3 linked regions of the Homo sapiens genome follow. The protein of the gene in region 2 purifies or fractionates together with the protein of the main gene of each other region. This does not show direct contact. Each region holds a gene or a part of one and is shown on either strand. Other genes may lie near its edges.

The links. Proteins that work in one complex are often made in the same cells at the same time.
Region 1: the proteins of LRRC39 (region 2) and CNNM4 purify together in Homo sapiens (affinity purification with mass spectrometry; 3 studies listed by BioGRID and IntAct, with this or other methods). This does not show direct contact.
Region 3: the proteins of LRRC39 (region 2) and LIMA1 purify together in Homo sapiens (affinity purification with mass spectrometry; 3 studies listed by BioGRID and IntAct, with this or other methods). This does not show direct contact.

Annotation. Positions count from the first base shown.
Region 1 is NC_000002.12:96,756,215-96,764,255, reverse strand, and holds the start of CNNM4 (metal transporter CNNM4 precursor), read right to left. Parts: upstream 3,355-8,041; 5' UTR 3,257-3,354; coding exon 1,855-3,256; intron 1-1,854. UniProt on the Homo sapiens protein: Probable metal transporter. The interaction with the metal ion chaperone COX11 suggests that it may play a role in sensory neuron functions. May play a role in biomineralization and retinal function.
Region 2 is NC_000001.11:100,174,556-100,182,796, reverse strand, and holds the start of LRRC39 (leucine-rich repeat-containing protein 39), read left to right. Parts: upstream 1-4,540; 5' UTR 4,541-4,662; exon of another isoform or gene 4,663-4,679; intron 4,680-8,241. UniProt on the Homo sapiens protein: Component of the sarcomeric M-band which plays a role in myocyte response to biomechanical stress. May regulate expression of other M-band proteins via an SRF-dependent pathway. Important for normal contractile function in heart.
Region 3 is NC_000012.12:50,217,167-50,225,199, forward strand, and holds part of LIMA1 (LIM domain and actin-binding protein 1), read right to left. Parts: intron 5,493-8,033; exon of another isoform or gene 5,469-5,492; coding exon of another isoform or gene 5,357-5,468; exon of another isoform or gene 5,320-5,356; coding exon 4,855-5,319; intron 1-4,854. UniProt on the Homo sapiens protein: Actin-binding protein involved in actin cytoskeleton regulation and dynamics. Increases the number and size of actin stress fibers and inhibits membrane ruffling. Inhibits actin filament depolymerization.

The DNA.
Region 1 (8,041 bases), on a different chromosome or scaffold from region 2:
ACAGAGCCCAAAGACAGCCCTCTCAAGACCCAGGAGGCTCCAACCCAAGAGAGCTCAGCCCTGCTGATCAAGACTGGGAGACTGGTCAGACCAATCCATACTGGTTGGATCCAGATTCCAAATGAACTGATGGGAAGGTGCTACTGGGTGTGTCACAAACCATAGTCCCAAACACCACAGAGGCAGTGAGGAGGAAGTTGCCCTGGAGGGTCCTAATCAGGTTCCCAACTAAGCAATAGGAGAAGTCTTCAGGTCCCAAGGCTTAGGGTGGGGGTGGGGCACAGATCCTCACTGCTTTTCTGTCCCAGGCTCGGGTACCTGGGAAAACCTGATTCCTGGGTCTGCACTCCCAAAGCCGCCCCCACCCCCACCCCACCGCAGCCTCTGCCTTCACCACTAGGGGTCTGTCTCTCCAGTCTCTGCAGGGAGGCCACCTTCCCTGGGGCTCTCCCAGACTCTGGCTTACTTTACTCAAGTGGTCCTCAGCTCCGATACTAAGATTCAGTCTGTTGAACTTAGGAGGGTACCAACCCACCACCCTGGCCCTGACCCCAGCATCTTTTCAGACCAAACCTGGCAAAGCCAGCTCCTCCCTATCCCACTCCAAAGCTGTCCTCCACTCTCCGTTACAGAAACACCTGCCAGCTCACTCCCTGCTAGGATTCCGAAGTCCCTCCAAGCCCTAGGTCGGCCTGAGCAGCCTCAGCCAGTAGGAGCTCTCCTATGGGAATGAAGGCTGGGAGCATGTTTAGAAAGCAAAGTCCCCAAGTTTAGGATGAGCCCCTCACCCCCATTCCTTTAAAAAAGAGCTTCCCTTTCTGCCTCCTCACTTCCTTCAGCCTGGGAGGGTTCCACTCCATAATTGGCTTGTTTACTGCCACTTTGAGGGTTTCTGAATGGCAGAGATGGGAGGAAAATTTTGCTGGAAGAAAAGGAGTGTGTGCCTTGAGCTTTGAGGCTGATGAGTAAACCCTCCAAATGCCTCTCTAACTACCTGCGAAATGGCCAAGAACCCAGGTGAGAAAAAAACACAAGGCAGTGCAAGGCAGCTGAAGATTTCCAGCAGACCACTGGAGGGAAGCTTACGCTGGCGCCACAATTACCAAAACTTAATCTGCTTGCTTCTGCTGAATAGTCGAAAGCGCTACTTGGCATTGTTCTGAGAAGCGAGCCAATTAGAGACCTCCCAATTCTGCTTCTGTGGGCTAGCACCTCCAGTAACATGACTCCCCTGCTCAAAAACCTGTAGCTCCCAAGCTGGGAGCAAACTTAGCGTCCACCACCGGGCCCCAAACTACTCCAGCCATTGACCACTAAGCATCAGAGCCACTATACCCACCAAACAGGACCACCTGCTGGGCCACAAGCACACTTTTGCTTCTCCACTCCGGTTCTCTGCTTGCGGGGTTCCCTCTGCCTCAAGCAGCAAGCCTCTCTACCTTTTAAGATTCTCCTCAAATGCTCCTTCCCCTGTGGATTCCCCAATTTCCCAGCCCCTTCCTGACTCCACCCCATACTCTAAATCTCCATCGCCCTGGCCTCTTTTCAGGCATCTGTCTTACTCTGTCTTGCTTCAATAGCTCCCTGAGGTCTTGCTCCAGCCCTCCAAGGGAGCGAGTATGTCTTATTCAGCTTTGATTCATCAGGAGCACACAGCACACTACCTGGCAGACGGCAGACACTTGAGAATGGGTCTACCGCTCCAAAATCGTTCACCTCAGAAGCATAGGAAGCGATAGGCAAAGGGACACAGAGTCACACAAACAGAACACTAAAGCCAGCAGACACAAAACACGCCAGGGGAAAAGAGGCGTCAAGAGGAAATTGAACCAGGGGAACTACATCTGGCCTTACCCTTCTTGAACTCCTCCAGCATGGCATCCAACTTGGTGTCATGGAAGACAAAGTGCACCGGGTGGTTATAGAAGCGAGTGATAGTCTTGAGGGGGGTGCAGTCATCGGGGTCCACAAAGGCCAAGTCTTTGACGTAGAGAATATCTACAATATTGGACTGCTCGTCTTCGAACACCGGGATGCGAGTATAGCCGCTTTCCATTATCTCCGACATGGTGTTGAAGTCCAGGATGGCATCGCTGCGGATCATGAAGCAGTCCTGGAGCTGGGTCATGATATCCTCTACAGTTTTGGTCCGTAGTTCCAGGGCACCCTGGATCATATTGAGCTCCTCTTTCACGAGGTCATTATAGGGCTCCGTCACCTTCAACATCTCCATCAGCTTCTCCCGGTTGTAAACAGTGCGAATCTCCTGGCCCAGAAAAAAGTCCAGGAGCTTGCTAATGGGAAAACTGAGGGGGAAGGTGAGTAGCATAAAGAATTTGGTGAGAAGGATGGTGTTGGCACCCACAGCCAGCCCATGTCGGGAGCACAGGGCCTGAGGTAGGATCTCCCCAAAGATGACAATGCCAATGGTGGAGGAGGCCACCGCCATGAGGCCGGACCCGATGAGGTTGTCTAGAAGGATTGTGAGGGAGGTGTTGACCAGCACGTTCCCTAGGAGCAACGAGCAGAGAAGGTAGTTGCCCTTGCGCCGGATGGGCTCAATCTTGCGGGCATAGCGCCTCTCCTTCTCGGTGCCACAGTTCTGCACGATGCGCAGCTCCATGGGGTCCAGGGCCATAAGCCCGAGGTTGAGGCCAGAAAATATGCCCGACAGCACCAGCAGCACCGTAATTAGGAGAATGTGCAGCCAGAGAGGCAGGAACCTCCCAGGCTCCTCCACCATGAAGAGCAGTGAGTCCTTGTCCGTCCACTTCAGCCAGGGCCCGTCGGGCTGGGCCCGGGTGCACAGTGCATACAGCTTCATGCTCTCGCTCCTCCGGAGGAACTTGGTGAGCACCACCAGCACGCCGGACGTGTTCCCGCGGCTCACGTTGACCAGCTGCTGGACGACCAGGTCCTTGGTGAGCTCGAGGCAGCTGGTGGACTTGTGGAGGGTCTCGGCATCGTCCACCTCGGTGAAGGAGATCAGGTTGCTGGAGATGTTGCCCAGGCTGTAGCCGTACAGCCTCAGGTTCACGGTGCTGCCCTCGGACACGAAGATGATGCCATCCGGGTTCGTCCCACACGACTTGTTGCAGCTCGCCAGCCTCATGCCCACGATCGTGCCCTGCTGGGGGCTGCCCTGGCCCCGGGCCCCCAGCGCCCACAGCAGCACCAGCAGCACCGGCGCCGCCAGGAGGAGGCGCCCGCGGGCCGGTCCGCCGACCGGGCGCCCGCCCCCGCCCACCGGCGCCATGTTGCTCTGGCTCTGCCGCCGCCGCCGCTCCCCGCGCCACGCCGCGCGGCCCCGGTCCGCACCGCAGCTCCGGCCGCTCCGCTGCCGCCGAGCCAACTGCCCGGGCCGCGAGCCTGACGTCAGGTCAGCGCCCCGCCCGCCCCGCCCCGCCTGCCCACGCCCCTCATTTGCATTGGAGGCCCCGCCCCCGGGGCTCGCTGCTTGAGCGCCCGCCCTTAAGGGGGTACAGTCGCTTAAGGTGGAGCAGCGCCGCCGCGCGAGAGCCGCCAGCGGGTACCCGCCCAGTGCTCCGCCTCCGCGCCCTTCCCCGCCTTTCTCTGCCAGTGGGGCCAGCTCTCCTTCTCCGGGACCTGGTCTCCTAGCTACGCCGTTCCTGTTCCTCGGCCTCGCACGGCCGCACGTGGGAGGCTCCTCTCCCGTCCCTCACCTGCAGCTAGGGGTGGCCCGCTCTGCAGGCAGGGCGAGAAAAGTGCTTTTCCTGATGTAGAAAAAGAAAAAGGAAACCTGAGGGCTTAGGCTGGCATTGCAGCCTGCCCCTTGGAGACTTTTCTGGCCTCCTCACTGCTGAGATTTTTGCCGACCTTGTCCTAAGGCCAGAAGTAGGTTACCCCAGCCCCAGCCCCAGCCCGACGATGCTTCCATCAACCAGTGGCTGCCTGATGTGGAAGGCAAATCTGGGGAACTAAGGTTATAGAAGGGGCAGGCTCTGGCCTAGACTTCTCTCCTGTCTCTTCCATTTAGGCATAGATATTTATTGAACACCTACTTTGTACCAGGCACTTGTTCTAGGCTCTGACAATAGAGCAGTGAACAAGCCAAAGTCGCTGCCCATTGGGGTTTACAGTCTAGAACAGAAAACAGGAGATAAACAAGTAAACACATATATTCATTAAATCCCCCCAACAACCCTCAGAGTTAGTAGAATTATTTCCATTTAGAGATGCAGAAATTGAGCCGAGACAAAAATCCTGGTGCCTCCATACTGTCATCTCCCAGCCCATTTCTCCATCTGTAAATGGGGGTAAGAATGACAGAGCATTACTTCGCTAAGCTTGCGGGATTGTGGACCTAGACATTGAACATGACAGGACAGCTCTTTAGAATATTCTTTGGCTAGGTAGTAGTTGTTGCTACCTGCCTTCCAGGACCAAACTCCTAACCCCAAATTGTGGTGATTGATCAGCTGGGCAGCTGCTTGTGGACATGAGCAGGCAGGCGCGGCAGTGGGCCTATCCCTGAAATGACTGCTTCCTGAATGGCCCTAGCCCTGTGTCAGTAGGGTGTATAAGGAAGACCACAGCTGCCCGCCCTGTGAGGGGGAAGAAGACAGACAGATAAACATCCTTACAATAATTGCACAGGTGCACAGAGAAGATCAGGTACTGGGTTGACCACCAGGTCTCACAGCAAATCTTTTGCCAGTACTGAAGACACAGAACCCACTTTACTCCCTTCCCGCACTGACACTTGTATTTATTTTCATTTTGGTGTAATGTTTGCTAATAAAAGCAGCAATCAGTACCAAACGGAAGGAGCCTAAACAGAAAGGATCACACAATGTTGTGGGAGGAGGTGTGGTAGCAGAGAGGCCCTGACTCAAGAAAGCCCTGTTAGCTGGGATTGAGGGTTCTGTAAACTAGGCCAGCCTGGAGAAGTATGTTGCTAGTAGGGGCCCCACTCATAGCGGATACTTTGCAGTGAGTGCCCAGCAGGTCAGTTTTTTCGAGGAATAGGAGCCTTGGAATGGGCACTGGCTGAGACAGAACAAAAGCAGAACCTTGACTGCCTGTTCCTTCCCTGTCTCCACCAACCAGGAAGAGCTACCTGAATTGCCTCAAAGCAAACCCAGCTCTCCTCATCTCCTAGTGAGCTGTAACACCAGCGCCCTGCTCCACCCCTACCCCCACCTCCCATACTTAGAAACTTTCCCATTCTATTATCAATCAATTGGCTATTTTTTCCCTTTTTCTTATGATTTTATTTTTTTCTCTATTATGTCTTTTTTCTGCTTAAGTACGAATTGGCTCCTTTTATTTTACCCTTTTCAGGCTGTCTACACTCAGAAGCTCTGTTCATATGCACTGAGTCTAATGACAGAAGCCAATAAAGAAAAGGAAAAATAAGTTTTTTAGATATTTAGGTTAAATGTGGGATTACCAGCTTGGGCAACATAGCAAAAACTCATTTCCACTAAAAATTTAAAAAATAAAAAGTTAGCTTGGCATGATGGTGCACACCTGTAGTCCCAGGACCTTGGGAGGCCAAGGCGGGCAGATCACCTGAGGTCAGGAGTTCAAGACCAGCCTGGCCAAGATGATGAAACCCCGTCTCTACTAAAAATACACAGTTAGCCAGGTGAGGTGATGCACGCCTGTAGTCCCAGCTACCCGGGAGGCTGAGGCAGGAGAATCACTTGAACCCGGGAGGCGGAGGTTGCAGTGAGCCGAGATCACGCCACTCACTCCAGCCTGGGTGACAGAGCGAGACTCCATCTCAAAAAATAAATAAATAAATAAATAAATAAATAAATAAATAAATAAAAATAAAAAGATAAACACAGTATCACTTGTTGGAGAAGGCACACGGGGCCCAGGCCGAAGTCCAGGTTCATTTGCTGCCAGCTTGCAACCCTGGTTAGGGAGTCTGCCTTTTCTGCATCTGCCATGTCGAAATACCTCTCCCACCGTAGGGACAGCATGGAGATAGCAGTCTATTAACATGCTGAGTCAGGAAGCTTGGATGCATGTGTGGCTCTCTGTTAGCCAGGCGGTGAGAATGGCAGAAAGCAAACGTGCAAGCGAGGAGCCTCTCTCCTTTGGGGGCAGATAAAGGCATGATCAAACCTGTTTTCTCTGCCTCAAGGTGGCAAGTCCTTACTTACCTAGTTGCTTCTATTTGCAAGTAGAAATTGCCCAGAGGAGTCCTGATCCTGGACCCCTGAGCATGTAACAGCACCCTAGTCATGAGATCCTTGGAGCTCACTGCTTCTTTCCAGGTGTAAGCCCTATGGCAACATGGCTACACCTCCCATAATTGAGCCCACTCCCTTCTGGTTCTGTGCAGGGAAACAGTCTTAAAGGCTTAGTGCCCCTTCACTTGTACCTGGCATCATGCTGATGCTGGAGATCCGATGATGAACAAGGATCCTGAATTAGTAACCTGGGATCTAATCCTCCCAGGCTAGCTTCTTAGCCCTCTTCACCCTCTGGGTCTCCAAGATGGGGTGCTGCTGGCAGAGGAGCTGCTGGCAGAGAAGCTGCTGGCAGAGAAGCTGCCCTTCCGCTAGTGGGGCTCAGAGCCTGAGGCCTGCCCTGGCCCCACAATGGGTAGAATCCCTCTGGGTGCACCGTGGGCCCCGGGGTTGGAGAACCTGGTTGGGGACCATGAGACATCTTTTCAGGGTGAGCTATGCCCGTCGTCAGTACATGCAGTGGCCTGTTCACCGGCTGCCCATGAGTCTACTATGATAGCCCTGAACATCTGCAGGACTCATCCATGCAGTTAAATTGTCTCAGGAAGGAAGGAGCAGTCAACCCTCTACAGAAGGACAGAGTTAGCGTGGAGTTAGCTAGGGTGGTGCTCAAATCCCAACTCAGGTCATCCCAGCAAGTGGGGGCATGAGGACTTGGATAGGAGGATGTCATGATTTCTGCCTGAGACAAATGTTTAATTGAGCCAGAGGAGGGAGTGAGAGCATCACATCAGTGGGTCCAGGCCAAGGAAGTCGAATGCCAGAGCAGCAAAGGTGAAGGGGTTTGTATTAACTATGTAAGTGGGCTTCAAGCTTCCTCTGGCCATAGGACAAATTGTTTTTCTTGGGAGCAGGACCATGGAAGGCAGGATACCCCACCATGGAGGTTCAGAGCACAGCTTTGAAGGACCCTGGGGGCTGGCTTGGCTGCTGATTGCCTGTGTGACCTGGGACTCTGGGACATTCTCGAGTGTTGAGTGAAATGATGAGCCATAAGTACTTCACAAGTGCCTGGCCCATAGTAAGAGCTCAATAAACATGCCCAGTCACCATGATAATGATGAAAATGATGTGGCCAGGATCATTTTTTTTCTTTTTCTTTTTTTTTAAGACGGGGTCTTGCTCTGTCATCCAGGCTGGAATGCAGTGGCATAATCATGGCTCAATGTAGCCTCAACCTCCCTAGGCCAAGTAATCCTCCCACCTCAGCCTCCTGAGTAGCTGGGACCACAGTCCCAGCGCACGCCACCATGCCCAGCTAATTTTTTTTGTTTTTTTGTAGAGACGGGTTCTCCCTATGTTGCCCAGTCTGGTCTCGAACTCCTGGTCTCAAGTGATCCTCCTAGTTCGGCCTCCCAAAGTGTTGGGATTACAAGTGTGAGCCACTGTACCCAGACCCACAGCCAGGATTTTTAGAAGACACTTGTAAATTTCCTTAGCTCCAGTGTGTCTCTCCATCCACCTGCAGCCACAGTCTTCTCGTTCATTTTCTTCCCTTTCTTCCAGAGGGAGAACACCAGGTGTGGATGATGAGGGAAGAAGGGAGGCTGAGGGGGAGGCCACCTGGGACTAAGCAAGACCCCATTGGACCCTTGGGCCTCCGTCGGGAGGACAGAAAGGAGGCGGGAGTGGAGGAGAAACCTGTTGGAAGAGAGCCTAAGAAAGGTTTTCACAGCACAGAGGGGCTCAAGCTGAAAAGGCTGGGGAAGCCAGGAAGAGAGGGAAGCCTCTCATTCGGTGTCAGACACCTGGCAAGCCCTTAGGCAAGGCCTGCCTGGGAAGCCCCTGCTAGTACCAGGGCCTGGGGGGGGAGT
Region 2 (8,241 bases):
CCATGACATTCATCTGGGCAATAATTTTTTGGATACAAATCCAAAAACACAGGCAACAAAAACAAACATTGACAAATGGGATTACACCAAACTAAAAATCTCTTGCACGGCCAAGAACACAAACAACAAAGTGAAGAGACAACCTGTCTGCAAATCATACATCCGATAAGGGGTTAATAAAAAAAAAAAAAAAAAAAAAGAAACTCAACTCAGCAATGAGAAAACAAAGAACTCAATTTAAAAATTGGCAAAGGATCTGAGTAGACATTTCTCCAAAGAAGACATAAAAATATCCAACAGGTATATGAAAAAGTGCCCCAAATCAAAAATCACAGTGAGATATCACCTCACGCCTGTTAGAATGACTGTTATCAAAAACACAAAAGATAACACGTGTTGGTGAGGATGTGGAGAAAAGGAAACCCTTGCACATTGTTGGTGGGAATGTAAATTAGTACAGCCCTTGTGAAAAACAGTATGGAGATTCCTAAAAAAAATTAAAAATTAAAAAACTACTATAGGATCCATTAATCCAGTACTAAGTACGTATCCAAAATAAAGGAAATCAGTATGTCAAACAGATATCTGCACCCTGATGCTTATTACAATATTATTCACACTAGCCAAGATGAAATGAACCTAAGTGTTCATCAACAGATGAATGGATAAAGAAAATGCATATGTACACAATGGAGTGTTATTCAGCCTTGAAAAAGAAAGAAATCCTGTCACTAGCAACAACATGAATAAATGTGGAAGACATTATATTAAGTGAAATAAGCCAGGAACAGAAACACAAATATACCACTTAATTTCACTTATACACGGGATCTAAGAAAGTTGAACTCATAGAAGTAGAGAATATGGTGGTTACCAGAGACTTGGGAGAGGGGTTGGGGAAACAGACAAACAAACTACCTATTTCAAAATTTTTTTATAGCAGCCTGAGCAGACTAAGACAGACCCTTACCCAATACCATGTATAAAAATTAACTCAAGCCGGGCGCGGTGGCTCACGCCTGTAATCCCAGCACTTTGGGAGGCCGAGGCGGGCGGATCACGAGGTCAGGAGATCGAGACCACGGTGAAACCCCGTCTCTACTAAAAATACAAAAAATTAGCCGGGCGCAGTGGCGGGCGCCTGTAGTCCCAGCTACTCGGGAGGCTGAGGCAGGAGAATGGCCTGAACCCGGAAGGCGGAGCTTGCAGTGAGCGGAGATCGCGCCACAGCACTCCCGCCTGGGCGACAGAACGAGACTCCGTCTCAAAAAAAAAAAAAAAAAATTAACTCAAAACAGATCAAAGACCTAAATGTAAGATCCAAAACTATAAAACTCTAAGAAGTAAACATAGGTGAAAAGCTTCACAGCATTGGATTTGGCAATGATTTATTGGATAAGACATCAAAAGCACAGGCCACAGAAGAAAAGGTGAAGTGGATCAGGCCTATAATCCCAGTACTTTGGGAAACAGAAGTGGGAGGATTGCTTGAGGCCGGGGGTTCAAGATTACAGTGAGCTATGATTGCGCCACTGCACTTCAGTCTGGGTAACAGAGTGAGACCCTGTCTCTTAAAAAAAAGACAGACTGGATATCATAAAATTTTTTAAATTTGTGCATCAAAAGACACTATTAAGAGAGTAAAAAGGCAACCCACAGAATGGGAGAAAATATTTGCAAGTATTATATCTAATAAGAGATTAATATCCAGAATATTGTCATTCACCACTTAATGATGGGGATACATTCTGAGAAATACGTCATTTGGTGATTTTGCCATTGTGAGAACAACATAGAGTGTATTCTGTGTGATAAAATACACATAACATTAAATTTACCATCTTGATCATTTTTTTTTTTTTTTTTTTTTTTTTTTTTTTTGAGACGGAGTCTCGCTCTGTAGCCCAGGCTGGAGTGCAGTGGCGGGATCTCGGCTCACTGCAAGCTCCGCCTCCCGGGTTCACGCCATTCTCCTGCCTCAGCCTCCCAAGTAGCTGGGACTACAGGCGCCCGCCACTACGCCCGGCTAATTTTTTGTATTTTTAGTAGAGACGGGGTTTCACCGTTTTAGCCGGGATGGTCTCGATCTCCTGACCTCGTGATCCGCCCGCCTCGGCCTCCCAAAGTGCTGGGATTACAGGCGTGAGCCACCGCGCCCGGCCGATCATTTTTAAGTGTACAGTTCAGTGGTATTAAACACATTCATAATATTGTGCAACCATCACCACCATCTATCTCCATAATTTTTTATTTGTCCTTTTGTAACTGGCTTACTTAGCATAATGTCCTCAAGAATCATCCATGTCGTAGCCTTTGTCAGAATTCCAGAATTACATTACAGTACTTGCCTAGTAAGGGAGTTGCTGCTGCTGACCCCAGAACCAGCTACATCTGCTGAGGCTAGGCAACTTTTGCTGCCAAAACAAACCCCAGAACATACTGCCTTTGCTGCTACCCATGCCAGCAAAAATGGACACCAGCGACACAAGTCACCCAACAGAGCCCTTTGTTGGTGTATATAATTAGTGGAACCTTAGTAGTGTATAAAATTAGTCACATACCCCATTCCAGTAGCAGGGGAGGCTGGGATTTCTTTTCCCCCTCAAATTCTACCTTGGAAAGGTAGGATTCATGATGTGGGGGATTATAAAAATGTGGATGGTGTTCAAAATATTTTGGACAGTCGTAAATGACAGATAGATATTCATTATATAGTGCCTGTCTCTTTGCATTCACTTTCTACATCCCTCCAAAGTCACCAAAATTCTGGCTAATTTGTGTCATAAATAGCTCAGGCATCTATTCACTTTCCCTATCCTCCCGGGCATTTCTTTAGTGTAAGTCACTCCATGGGGATGGGAAATAAAAGGTAGATAAGGGAAGGAGAAGAGAGATGCCTTGAAATTTGTGGGTTCTCTATAAATACTGTCAAATTAAAATTTAATTGTACGTAGTGCCAAAGGCAGAAAGAAATCTTAATTTTCTCCAAGGTAACAATATACTGTTCTTTTTAACTGAAACAAAACTCCCTGGATCTCTCTCTCTCTCTCTCTCTTTTTTTTTTTTTTTCTTCAGACAAGGAAGGCTCTGTTGCCCAGGCTGGAGTGCAGTGGCACCATCACAGCTTGACCTCCCTGGCTCAAGGTATCCTCCCACCTCAGTCTCCCAAGTAGCTGAGACTACATATACACACCACTACACCTGGCTAGTTTTATTTTATTTTATTTATTTTTATTTTTATGGAGACAGGGCCACCATGCCTGGCTACTTTAATTTTTTTTTTTTTTTTTTTTTTTTGGTAGATACAGGGTCTCACTCTGTTGCTCAGGCTGGTCTCCAGCTCCTGGGCTCAAGTGATCCTACCATCTTGGCCTCTCAAAGTGCTGGGATTACAGGTGTGAGATCTTGATTTTTACTTATGAACACATGCAAGCACTCTGTATGTGTTGGGTGGTGTACACTCTCGGGACAGGGAAGTTAGAGTTTCAATTGTGGCCATGGCTTCTTTACTCTTTCTGTGATCTTGAGCAGTCCCACAACTCTTAGAACTTAATTCATTATAGAAGTGTTGGAGAATTTCTGTGAGATAATCAGGCATAAATTTTTAAAGCATTAATATTGCTGAGATGTCCAAATGACTACATAAATTATGATCCACCTACACGCTAAACTGCTATGTAGCCATTAAAAAGAATGACGCTGCTCTAAATATACTAATATGAAACAGTTTCCAAGATATCCTGAGTGAAGAAAAGACAGTATAGAACAATGTATATAGTATGCTACCATTTTTGTATGTGTGCATGCCTTCACATATGTGTGCTTTTAAGGGATATAGGCATATTTAAGCTCGTAAATTCATAGACCATCTTTGTAAAGGTACACAAAGAACTGGCAATAGTGGTTGCCTTCAGAGAAGAGAACTTGAAGAGAACCTCCCTACTGGAGGCAGGGATGGTGGAAGGGGTGGGGGATGGAGAGAGTGGAGATTGAGCTTTTGAATTCTGTTCCATGTGCATATATTATAAATTCAAAAAAAGATATAGTTTATTTTTTAAGAACCTGGAATTAAGTCCTATCTATGAAAGCTGAAGAGATCAAAGTGAGAGGTAATTTAATTTGAAGCCCAGGTACAGCAGAAGTTTGGGGCTTCTGTGTTACTCATGCTTATCCACACCTTTATTTTTTCTTTTTCTAAAGCATCTGGGTCTTTAGTTCAAATATTTGCAGATCCATGGTTTACTGGGTAGAATTTTTGTTGTGGCATACATCAACATATTCCAAGTTTCTCTGCTTGGATGGAATAGATGCATGAAATTCTGTGAAATGATTAAGCTGTGAAAAGTAGAAGGACTTTGAATAGGCATTATTTTTCAAGATCTTAGAAATAGTTATGCCTGATAGTTTTATAATGTCTGTAGCGTATTTTGCAGTCCACAGAACGCACTCACATACATTATCAGCTGATCCGTCGCAAAGAAGCCTCATGTGATTCTTTCTATTCTCAGCTTTGTCCATGAACTAAAATTAGAACTAGGCTGACATTACATTTCACTTGGTTACAGCTGACTGGGGATTTTAATCATTTGGAGCCACACTGAAAAAAAAATTTCCCCCTGCAATCTACTCTTAACTGATAGTCGCTAACTTTGGTTATGTGTGGTAAGTATTTGACAATGGTAAGTATTTTTCAAAAACATTTTTCCTTTCTTCTTCACATGTAAATAGATTGCTGCTGATACCTATACTGTGTCTGTATTGGTTGGAATGTCCAAACAAACTGGAATAGAATTTAAAAGTTTTTTTGCGGGGTGTTCATGGTCACTCATATAATTGTGCTCCTCTGGAAGATAGATTTCCCCAGAAGTAAGAAACAATTCTTCTGCAATTCTTTTCTATGCTTACCTCACTTGTCACATTATGTGCTTTTTTTCTATTATGGTACTAATCAGAGTAGAGAGCAGTCCTGTGCTGGAGGAAGAAATATATCATTATTGACTTGTGTTTCCCTAGGGGAAGTTGGTTGTTATAGGAAAACTGATGGATGAGCAACATTTAATGGCAAATGAGGAAATGAATTAGCAAATGGATGAATTGTTTTACATGTCTTCTAAAATACATGTATACATGTAGATACTTGGGAATTCAAAAATATTTTTATTCGAGTATTTAGCAAAAACTTCAAACTTTCTTAAATTAGAGACAATAAATTGTAAATTGGTTGCAATATGCTCAGGAAGTTGGATTACCAGTGTATGTATCCCAAGGTTTCTTCACAGCAAAGAGATCTCGCATTCTGTTCCTGAGTAAATTCGGCATGCCTTGCTTAGAGATTCTCTCAACAATTTCCTGCCTATGCCAATTATTTATCAATCTTGAAATTTTAAACTTTTTTCTGTAATATAGTTCTCCTCTTTCTTTGACTGTCTCACACACATATATACTGCATAATATTAGTTTAAAAAATCAATAATTTAGAAGAGGTTAATAATGAAAAGCAATATTATCTATCCGATTCCTCTCTATCACCAGTCCTGCTCCCTAGAAGTAATCATTTTAACCATTTTGGAATTTAGTTTTCAGTGGTTATCTCCATATTTCTCTCTTTTTTTTCTTTTTCAAAGACAATTGCATGCTATTTTTAATCAACTTTAAACATCTGTGGAGCTTCATTATGAGAGGTGGGGATTAAGTTCCCTTACACTGCCATAGAGTTATATCCCTATTTTTAGCTTCTCTCTTGATTACCTTAATAACTTTAAGCAAATACTTTAATCTTTATTTCTTGTTCCATAAGGTACAGACAGTATCTGTTGATTCCCCACTTCGAAGATGTGGATATCGGTGTTCTTATCATTTACTTCTTTTCCTTATTTCCTTCTTCCATATTCTGTTAAAAGTACTGTCACTTTTATGTTTTCAAGATATATGGCATTTATATTCTGTTCTGTAACCCTCAATAAGTCTTCCTTACTTTTTTATAGATTGATTTATTTCAAAAGTTTAAGACCAATACATAGACTTTACTATGTAATTTCTGTTTTCTGCAGAGCCAACATTTCCTTCTCAGTATCAATGTCATATTCATTGTACTAAAGAAGAATGTTAAAATAGATTCTCCTTTCCTGCACTTCAATAAATGCTAAAAAATCATGCCACATTTTGTTGGCTCTATATATGGACTGTGGCTTTCTTGTACAGTGTCTTCCTCAACACAATTTCTGACTGCCTTTCTTTTTGCTTATTGGGAGAAGAAATTTCATCTTTTCACCATATCTCCAATGTCACACAGTTTTTTCCCCCTTAATTCTAGCTATTTTTATAATTCAATGGATGAATACTGCCATTCCTTTTTTTTGTTTGTTTTTGAGACAGAGTTTCATTCTTGTTGTCTGGTCTGTAGTGCAATGGTGCAATCTCAGCTCACTGCAACCTCTGCCTCCCGGGTTCAAGTGATTCTCCTGCCTCAGCCTCCCAAGTAGCTGGGATTACAGGCATGTGCCACCACGCCTGGCTAATTTTATGTTTTTTTAGTAGAGACGGGGTTTCACCATGTTGGTCAGGCTGGTCTTGAACTCCTGACCTCAAGCGATCCACCAGCCTCCCAAACTGCTGGGATTACAGGCGTGAGCCACCATGTCCAGCTATTGCTTTTAAAACATTGTTTTACTTTATTTTTAATTTTTTTACTATCATGTAAAACATTGCTGGGAACAGTCTTGTTCATGTTTCCTGGTGGAGACACACCCTTCCTCTAGGTACATACCTTTGAATGGAATTGCTGGATCATAAGCTGTGCTTATCTTCAATATTAGTACATAAGTATTTCAAAATAGTTAATACTAATTTACAATTTCACCAATATACCAGGAGTCCATGAGGATTTCTGTAACTCAAATTCTCACCAACACTTGGTATAATCAGCCTTTTGAATTTTAGCCATTCTGACAGATGTTCATTGGTATCTTATTATGTTTTTATTAAGGTGGAGCACAACTTCATTTGTTTTTGGTCATTTGGATTTTTTTTTCTCCACAGGGAAAGTTCTACCATTTGGATTTTATTTTTTGAAAATTTCCTGTTCAATTGTATTTTCTGTTGCCTTTTTCAGCTGATTTTAAGGAGTTCGTTATATATTCTAGATGTAATCCATTGGTGGTTATATATATTGCCAATATCTTCCCCCACTAATGTACATGGTATTCCTTTTATTTTCTAAGTGATGTCTTTCAATAGGTTCTTAATTGTAATGTAGTCCACTTTATCAATCTGTGTTAGGCTGTTCTTGCATTGCTATAAAGAAATAACTGGCCAGGCACAGCAGCTCATGTTTGTGATCCTAGCACTTCTGGAGGCCAATGCAGGAGGATCACTTGAGCCCAGGAGTTCAAGACCAGCCTGGAGAATGTGGAGACATCCTGTCACTACCAAAAAAAAAAAAAAAAAACTGGCACACTGGTTCTTGCTGTAGTCCCAGCTATTCTGAAGGCTGAGGCAGAGGGGGCCCAGGAGATCAAGGCTACTATAAGCCATGATTGTGCCACTACACTCCAGCCTTGGTGGCAGAGTAAGCCTGTCTCAAAAAAACAAAAAACAAACAAACAAAAAACCACAAAACAAAGAAATACCTGAAACTGGGTAAATTACAAAGAAAAGAGGTTTAACTGGCTCACGGTTCTGCAGGCTTTACAGGAAGCATGGTGCTGGCATCTGCTTCTCAGGGAGCTTTCAATCATGGTGGAAGGCAAAGGGGGAAGCCTGCGTCCCGCAAGGCCAGAACAGGAGCAAAAGAGGGAGCAGGGGGAGGTGCCACAAACTTAAAGAACCAGATCTCCCAAGAACTCACTGTTTCAAGGACAGCACCACGCCATGAGGGATCCTCCTCCATGATCCAATCACCTCCTACCTAGCCAACACCTCCAACGTTGGGGATTACAGTTCAACATGAGATTTGGTGGGAACATATATTCAAACTATATTGTGATATAGTATATCTTTTCCTTTATGGATATGCTTTGTATTCTGTTTTAAAAAGTGTTCTCTACTTTAAGGACATCAAGATAAGTCCTATATTGTCACCTAAATGCTTTATTTTTTCTACTTTCACTTTTAGATCTACAATTCACATGGAATTAATTTTGGTAATACATAGATATTCAACTGTCCCAATATAATTTCTCTTAAAAAATTATTCCCATGGCCAGGTGTGGTGGCTCACACCTGTAGTCCCAGCACTTTGGG
Region 3 (8,033 bases), on a different chromosome or scaffold from region 2:
AACATTGTTCTTTCTCCTATTTTTTCCTTGGATCACAAGTTCATATACAGTCAAGCAAGCACCCCAAAAATCCCAGAATTGAAAACAGGTGTATTCCCTTCAGAAAAATCAAAGCTAGAATGTTTAGCTATTAAAGTGTTTCTCTCCAGACTGAGATCAAGTGACTTCACTGCAGTGGCTCAAGAGTGGCTGACTCCCTCCTTCCAAATCAGCCCATCATAGAACACCTATTGCTAAATAGCAAAAGCCAGAGGCTTAGACTGGATCCCTCATAATTGGAGACTTCAAAGTGTTCAGAACTTCAAGCCTGGCCTTTGAAGTAAAATCTTTTTTTTTTTTTTAAGTACAATTGCAATTTTTTTATTTTTCTCCAGAGGCTAGTTTTTCTTCAGTCCTTAAGAACTCTGCTCCTTATATGGGCTTCGGTGGCAGTCATGGGGCAGCACCGCAGGTCTACAGTGGGGTGGAGGTGTTCGGTCCTTGCGGGCTTCATGACCTTGATTTCTGGCGGTCGTGGGGCAGCACCCGCAGGTCTACAGTGGGGGGAAGGTGTTCGATCCTTGTGGGCTTCATGACCTTGATTCCTGACTACCGTGCTGTGAATGGCACAACTCACACAGTAATGTAGCTTCACATCCAGCCTGGGAAGTACACAGGCATCTAGGACGCTCACTTCAGAAATATCGCTGACTGCCGCAGCCTCTACATTTCAAGCATTTCAAGTGATGAATTTCTTTTCTTTTTTTTTTTTTTTTTTTGAGACGGAGTCTCACTCTTGCCCAGGCTGGAGTGCAGTGGCGTGATCTCGGCTCACTGCAAGCTCTGCCTCCCGGGTTCACGCCATTCTCCTGCCTCAGCCTCCCGAGTAGCTGGGACTACAGGCGCCCGCCACCACGCCCAACTAATTTTTTTGTGTTTTTAGTAGAGACAGGGTTTCACCGTGTTAGCCAGGATGGTCTCAATCTCCTGACTTCGTGATCCGCCCGCCTCAGCCTCCCAAAGTGCTGGGATTACAGGCGTGAGCCACCGCGCCCGGCCTATGATGAATTTCTTAATAAGCCTTGTCATTGGGCACACAATGGGCACAGTTTATGCAGCAAATTGGCTGCAGTGAATAGCGTACACCTGGTTGCGGCCCTCTTTGGTGTGACCATTGTTTCTTCTTTTCTTTGTCATCTTGGAGGTACAGGCCCAAGAAAGATGAAGTAAAAATCTTAATTTGAGGGTGACTAAATGAGTGCTTCAAGACCACTTACCCCAAATCCACATTCTGCAAGACAGTTCAAGAAAAAAGGCAAAGTAGCCGTCTACCTCAAGGCTATGGGCTCCACAGTACTTAGCACAGCTGTACCCAAATGTAAACACTTCCCATGGCGTGCTTCTTCCCTGTCTCCCAGGTTAGTCACAATGATGCCAAGGTGCTCTGTCATTGACATTCTCATCCTTTAAGAATTTCAGGCTGGGTGTGGTGGCTCATGCCTGTAATTTCACCAGCTTGGGAGGCCAAGGCAGGAGGATCACTTGAGCCCAGGAGTTTAAGAACAGTCTGGGCAACATAGCGAAACGCTGTCTCCATAAAAAATTTTAAAAATTAGCTGAGAGTGGTGGTACACACCTGTGGCCCCAGCTATTTGGGAGGCTGAGGCAGAGGGGTCAAGGCTGCAGTGAGCCATAACTGTACCACTGTACTCCTCCAGCCTGGGCAACAGAGTTAAGACCCTATCTCCATAAAAAAAAAAAAAACAAAAACAAAAAAAAAACGCATTTCAAACAATAACAGCAGTTTAATTCTTCCTTTGGAATCTAGGTAAAACTGGTCTTCTCTATAAAGTCTACTATGTTCTGGTCTCATTTCAAAAAGTATAAACACACTGAAGTTAAAACGTGAAATATTAAGAATAAAAGATTCAAAAAGTAGCAGTTGGGGGATGAGTATTCCAAGGTTTGAGTATAAGATTGGCTGTGAGACTATACAGGTAGGTTGAGCTCAGACTATAGAATACCTGACAGAACTGTTAAAAATAATCTAGACTGAGACTGGGCGTGGTGGCTCATGCCTGTAATCCCAGCTCTTTGGGAGGCTTGAGGCAGGCAGATCACCTGAGGTCAGGAGTTCAAGACCAGCCTGACCAATATGATGAAACTCCGTCTCTACTAAACATACAAAAATTAGCTGGGCGTGGTGGCGGGCGCCTATAATCCCAGCTATTTGGGAGGCTGAGGCAGGAGAATTACTTGAACCTGGGAGATGGAGGTTGCAGTGAGCCGAGATCGCACCAATACACTCCAGCCTGAGTAACAGTGAGAGATTCTGTCTCAAAAATAAATAAATAAATAAATAAATATAATCTAGACTGTTTTCAGTATGGACAATGATGCTTATTTACAAACAGCAATAAAACCAAGGGTGGCTGTGTTTTCCACTCCCTAAGCAGTCCATTAAGTGACAAATCAGGAAATTAAAAATGGCACACACAAAAAGCAATGAAACCTAGAAGCCCAGGTGAATCTTATGTCTCTTCCATCTTCTTGTTTTTAAGGGACAGGGATCTTACTGTGTTGCCCAGGCTGGAGTGCAGTGGCGATCATGGCTCACTGCAACCTCAAACTCTCATGCTCAAGCAATCTTCTGCCTCAGCCTCCTAAGTAGCTGGGACTATCAATGCATACTACCACACCTGGCTAATTTTTAAATTTTTAGTAGAGACGAGGTCTGGCTATGTTGCCCAGGCTGGTCTCAAACTCCTGGGCACAAGCAATCCTCCTGCCTTGGGCCTCCCTAAATTCTCATTACAGATGTAAGCCACCGTGCCCAGCCTCTTCCATCTTCCTATACCTTTAGCAATCAATCTGGTGGCCCAGTGCTATCAGCCATCTAGTAGGATCTTTATTTTTATTTTTATATATTTTTTGAGACAGAGTCTCACTCTGTTGCCCAGGCTGGAGTGCAGTGGCATGATCTCGGCTCACTGCATCCTCCACCTCCCAGGTTCAAGTGATTCTCCTGCCTCAGCCTCCCAAGTAGCTGTGACTACCAGCAACGCCACCATGCCTGGCTAATTTTTGTATTTTTAGTGGAGACGGGGTTTCACCATGTTGGCCAGGCTGGTCTCGAACTCCTGGCCACAAGTGATCCCCCAACCTCTGCCTCCCAAAATGCTGGGATTACAGGCTTGAGCCACCACGCCCGGACTAGTAAGATCTTATATGGAAAGTTTTTCTCCTCTCCAAGCAGCCTTAGGGAGATAGGCTTGTTCTGACCCATATCTCACTAGATATTTATGAGAAAAAGTGTCTCACCATATCCTTACACATAATCAGCATTTTTGTCTGCTACAGTCCCAGTCATTTCCTACCTTTGGCCAGTTTCAACATGCAGCAGCCTTTTGCACTGAATCTACATTGTGTGTACTGGCATGACATCAGCTGTCCTGTTCCTAGCAGGGTCTGGGAGGAGGAGACTTACAATGGTGCTTTGAGTCACAACAAAACCCCTTCCTCTCTATTTAGGATTTCTGACATTTTTTCCTTCCACTTAAAATTCTTCTTCCCATTTAAATAAAACAAATTTTTAAATTAAAACCATAAAGGGGAAAGAAGGAGTTGGCAGGACTAAAGGTCTAAAAACTTGAGAGGGAAGAGAGTTAAGAAACGTTATAAAACTGCTTTGTGGTTACATCTCTTGCCAACTGGTTTCACTGTTAAAGTAGAGCTAAAGCTCATGCACAGAGAAGTGTTGTAGCTTTACACATCGTCAAAAACTCGCACAACTTCAAACATGACCCGCAAACATTCAAGAACTTTTCTAATTCTAAGTAGAAAAGTGACTGGCACTGCAAGTCATGGGAAGGGATTGACAATATCACATCTAATATAACTGAAGACTACAGGATGAGTTATTTTTTATCTCAGAAAGAATGCTTAATATTATTATATTACTTTCCAAACATAGGGACTTGGGCCAAATATTTAGCTTAAAAAAAATCCAGCTTTCCCATCTAGGTGGAATCTAGAGTAACAGATGGTTTTGCTCCCCATCAGGTCTGTTTATTTCATTATAACGACTGTTGTAACGAACCATCCCCATGTACAAAGCCAGATATATAGGAAAGTATGAGAAAACTGGAAAAATTTACCAGCTCTGTGGCCTCTGGATTGTGTTATAAATCACCAGCATATGTAACTCATTTTCTAGTTAAGTAATTCCCTCTGGGGACGAGGTCTGCAATCCACATGAAGGATCAAATTTCATTAGCAGTTGTAGGAAAACGCAACCCTGTGCATTTGCAAGTCAAAACTCCCGAAAGCTATAGCTAGTCTGGCTATCTTCATTGATTTTGCCTGAGAGAGGATTTTAGCTGATAGAAAACATTTGTTGGAAGGCACAGATGAGGAAGTTGAGAAGAAGAGAAGGGATTCAGCTAGCAGAGACAAGTAAGCCTCAGTCTTAATGTTAAACTCCGGCCTTAACACTCAGTCTGCAGCTGTGTCCAAGCAGAGAGCTATTCAGCAGTAATTCCACCCCCAAAGCTACAAATGATAAAGAACACAGGAAGACAATTTAAAAGGGCAAGTGTACAAAAACACATAATCCAATCGGTATTAAACTCTCTTCATTTCTAGATACCAATTTGAATCCCAGTGTGAACCTGATTTAACATGAAATTGTGTCAGAGACTCACAAATCTTAGCATCTATGTAAATAATGCATTTGAGACTATTAACTTATCTAACTGGAATCAAAAGACATACTGACCACATATTCGCCTCTACTCAAAATAGCTAGATTGGAAAAACAGCTTTGTTTAGTGCTTGAATTGGCTTTCTCAAGTTTCAAACCCGCCCAATTCTTACCTTAGTTTGAGTTGGTTCACCTTTCTCAAACATCATCTTAAGCCTGTTCAGCGGAACATTATATTTCTCTATTTTGCCCGAAGCATCTGTGTTTTCACTGATTTCTGATTTTTCTACTTCATGCCTGGATTCTCCTAGACAATTTTCCATTTTTTTACTTTCTGTTGAGTGGTCTTTAAGATCCTCACCGTCCTTGATGTGGGGATATCGACCCTGAACGAGGGCTTCAGGAGGTGACCTGAGTCTAGATCTGGGGTGGATTTGTTCTTCTTGGTCAGCTTTGGCTCCAGAAGCAGCGTGGCTTGTCACTTCAGCAGGAGGATGGTCTGCTCTGTGCCTAATCTCAGTGCTGCTGTTCCGTAGAGAGTCTGTGTGAGACTCTGCTCCCAGCCCTGGGTTCTCCCACTTCTTCTTTAACACAGTCAGGGTCCCCTTTCTAAAGTGCTGGGAGAGATTTTCGGTGTTCTAGAAGAACAAGAAGTAGATGCCAGTTATAACTTGCCTGCTGAAACATTCAAACATGTTGTTCTTTGTAAAATGAAAGTTAAAACTCCAAGCTGCTCCTGGTCCACTGCTGTTTCAGACAGCTGTGAACAGTTACAGCCTTGCCACATGGAGAAAGCATCCACCCGGCAGAGGGAGAGGGAGAGGGGAAGAGAGAAAAACTCAGGAGCTGAAGCAGGAAGTGATAAAACAGGATGGCCTTATAAGGACAAAATGAGAAGAAAGGCAAACCCAGCTCTAATGATAGTTACATGCGAAACAAGAGATTTTTACCCAAAGATTAATGGGGAAAAAAACAAGAAAGAAAAAGCAAAATACAAGTGCTTGAAACACTGTAACTACACATCAGCAAAGTTCATCATTACCTGCCATAAAATAACATGGTAAATTCTGCTGGGTTTTTTTTTCTTCTTTTAAATAAGACAAAGATGCAGGATAGTTGCAGGATAGCTGAAACTATACCATTAATTACGGATAGTGGCAGCAAGGATTGAAACAATTTGTAGAACCCTGGAGAAGTCCCCAGACTTTCCAAGTATTTGCATAAATATTTAGTTATATCTGACATAATTTACATGCATATGAGCAGTCAAATTTTATTTTTCATAAGAATTTAATCTTTTTTTTTTCCCTGCTCTTCTCTACAAGTTTATCTGTGTATAAATTCTCACTTATCAGGGCCAGGCACGGTGGCTCACGCCTGTAATCCCAGCACTTTGGGAGGCCGAGGCCGGCGGATCACAAGGTCAGGAGTTTGAGACCAGCCAGACCAACATGGAGAAACCCTGTCTCTAAAAAAAATACAAAAATTAACTGGGTGCAGTGGTGCACACCCATAGTCCCAGCTACTCTGGAGGCTGAGGCAGGAGAATCGCTTGAACCTGGGAAGTGGAGGTTGCAGTGAGCCAAGACTGCGCCACTACACTCCAGCCTGGGTGACAAAGTGAGACGCCATCCCCCAACCAAAAAAAAAAAAAAAATTCTCAGTTATCAAGAAATTCACTGTTTTACAGATCCTCTGGTTGTAAAATATGCAGGCTTCAAATGCAAATACCACTACTTATCACTCAGATGATCAAAGGACACACATTTACATATCTAAGAGAGTTCACTTTCACTAGGGCCAAAAATGGAATTAATTTATACATGTAAGACAGACTGAAAACAACCTGGAAATTGTCACTGTTGTTCCATAATAGAGGAAACACGCTTGTTGAAAATTAAATGTCCCGGCTGGGCGCAGTGGCTCATGCCTGTAATCCCAGCACTTTGGGAGGCCGAGGCGGGTGGATCACCTGAGGTCAGGAGTTCGTGGCCAGCCCGGCCAACACCGTGAAACCACGTCTCTACTAAAAATACAAAAAATAGCTGGGCGTGGTGGCACGCGCCTGTAGTCCCAGCTACTCAGGAGGCTGAGGCAGAAAAATGGCTTGAACCTGGGAGGCGGAGGTTGCAGTGAGCCCAAATCGCGCCACTGCACTCCAGTCCGGGTGACAGAGTGAGACTCTGTCTCAAAAAAAAAAAGAAAAATTAAATTAAATTAAATGTCCCGTACTTTGAAAGGACTGTACTCCTAAATAAATTGAACAGCACCACCTTCCCAACAAACTGCAAACTCCAATACCTTCTCTCCTGTAGTCTGTGACTCACCAGTCTTTCAACTAAGAAAGAAAGGACAAACAACCTAGGAATTAAACAGGATTAGCAGCTATTTTGGGAATTAAGTCTCTCACCCTATTACTCTTCTGAATATACTCTTGAAAGCCACTTCATCAAGTAGAAATAAGGCTTGAAAAGAAATTATAGAACTGCTTGATTCTAGTGTTTAAATTTTAGCTTACAAAATGATCCATTGGGGGAAGAATGTATGCATCAGAGATATAAGAAGCTTAAAAAGTTTTCTTGCTGGAAAAGAAGGAATTACAGAACAGCTCCAGAAGCTGGTTCTACCCTAACTGCCAGCAGCACTCTTGGCTCTGTAAGGTCTCGTGCCACACAATGGATGAGTCATCTAGGTCTCTGACTTCACCTGCCCTTACTGTAACCACACAGGAGCCCTGACAATCAAAGTGGCACTTTGCCTTGGTAACTGGACACTGTTTTTCTCAGATACCTATCATGTGATCAAAGTATACTTATTGACATGAAAAGATGCTCATAGGATACTTTTGAATGAAGAAAGCAAATTATAAGACAGCATGATCCTATTTTAATTTTTTTTTAGAGACGGGGTCTCGCTCTGTCACCCAGGCTGAAATGCAGTGGTGTAATCATAGCTCACTGCAGCTGTTTGACTTCCTGGGCTCAAGTGATCCTCCCACCTCAGCCTCCTGAGTAGCTAGGACTACAGGTGTATGTCAGCATGCCTGGCATTTTTTTTTTTTTTTTTTTTTTTGAGACGGAGGTTCACTCTTGTTGCACAGGCTGGAGTGCAATGGCGTGATCTCGGCTCACTGCAACCTCGGCCTCCTGGATTCAAGCAATTCTCATGCCTCAGCCTCCTGAGTAGCTGGGATTACAGGCATGTGCCACCATACCTGGCTAATTTTGTATTTTTAGTAGAGACGGGGTTTCTCCATGTTGGTCAGGCTGGTCTCGAACTCCCAGCCTCAGGTGATCTGCCTGCCTCGGCCTCCCAAAGTGCTGGGATTATAGGCATGAGCCACTGCGCCTGG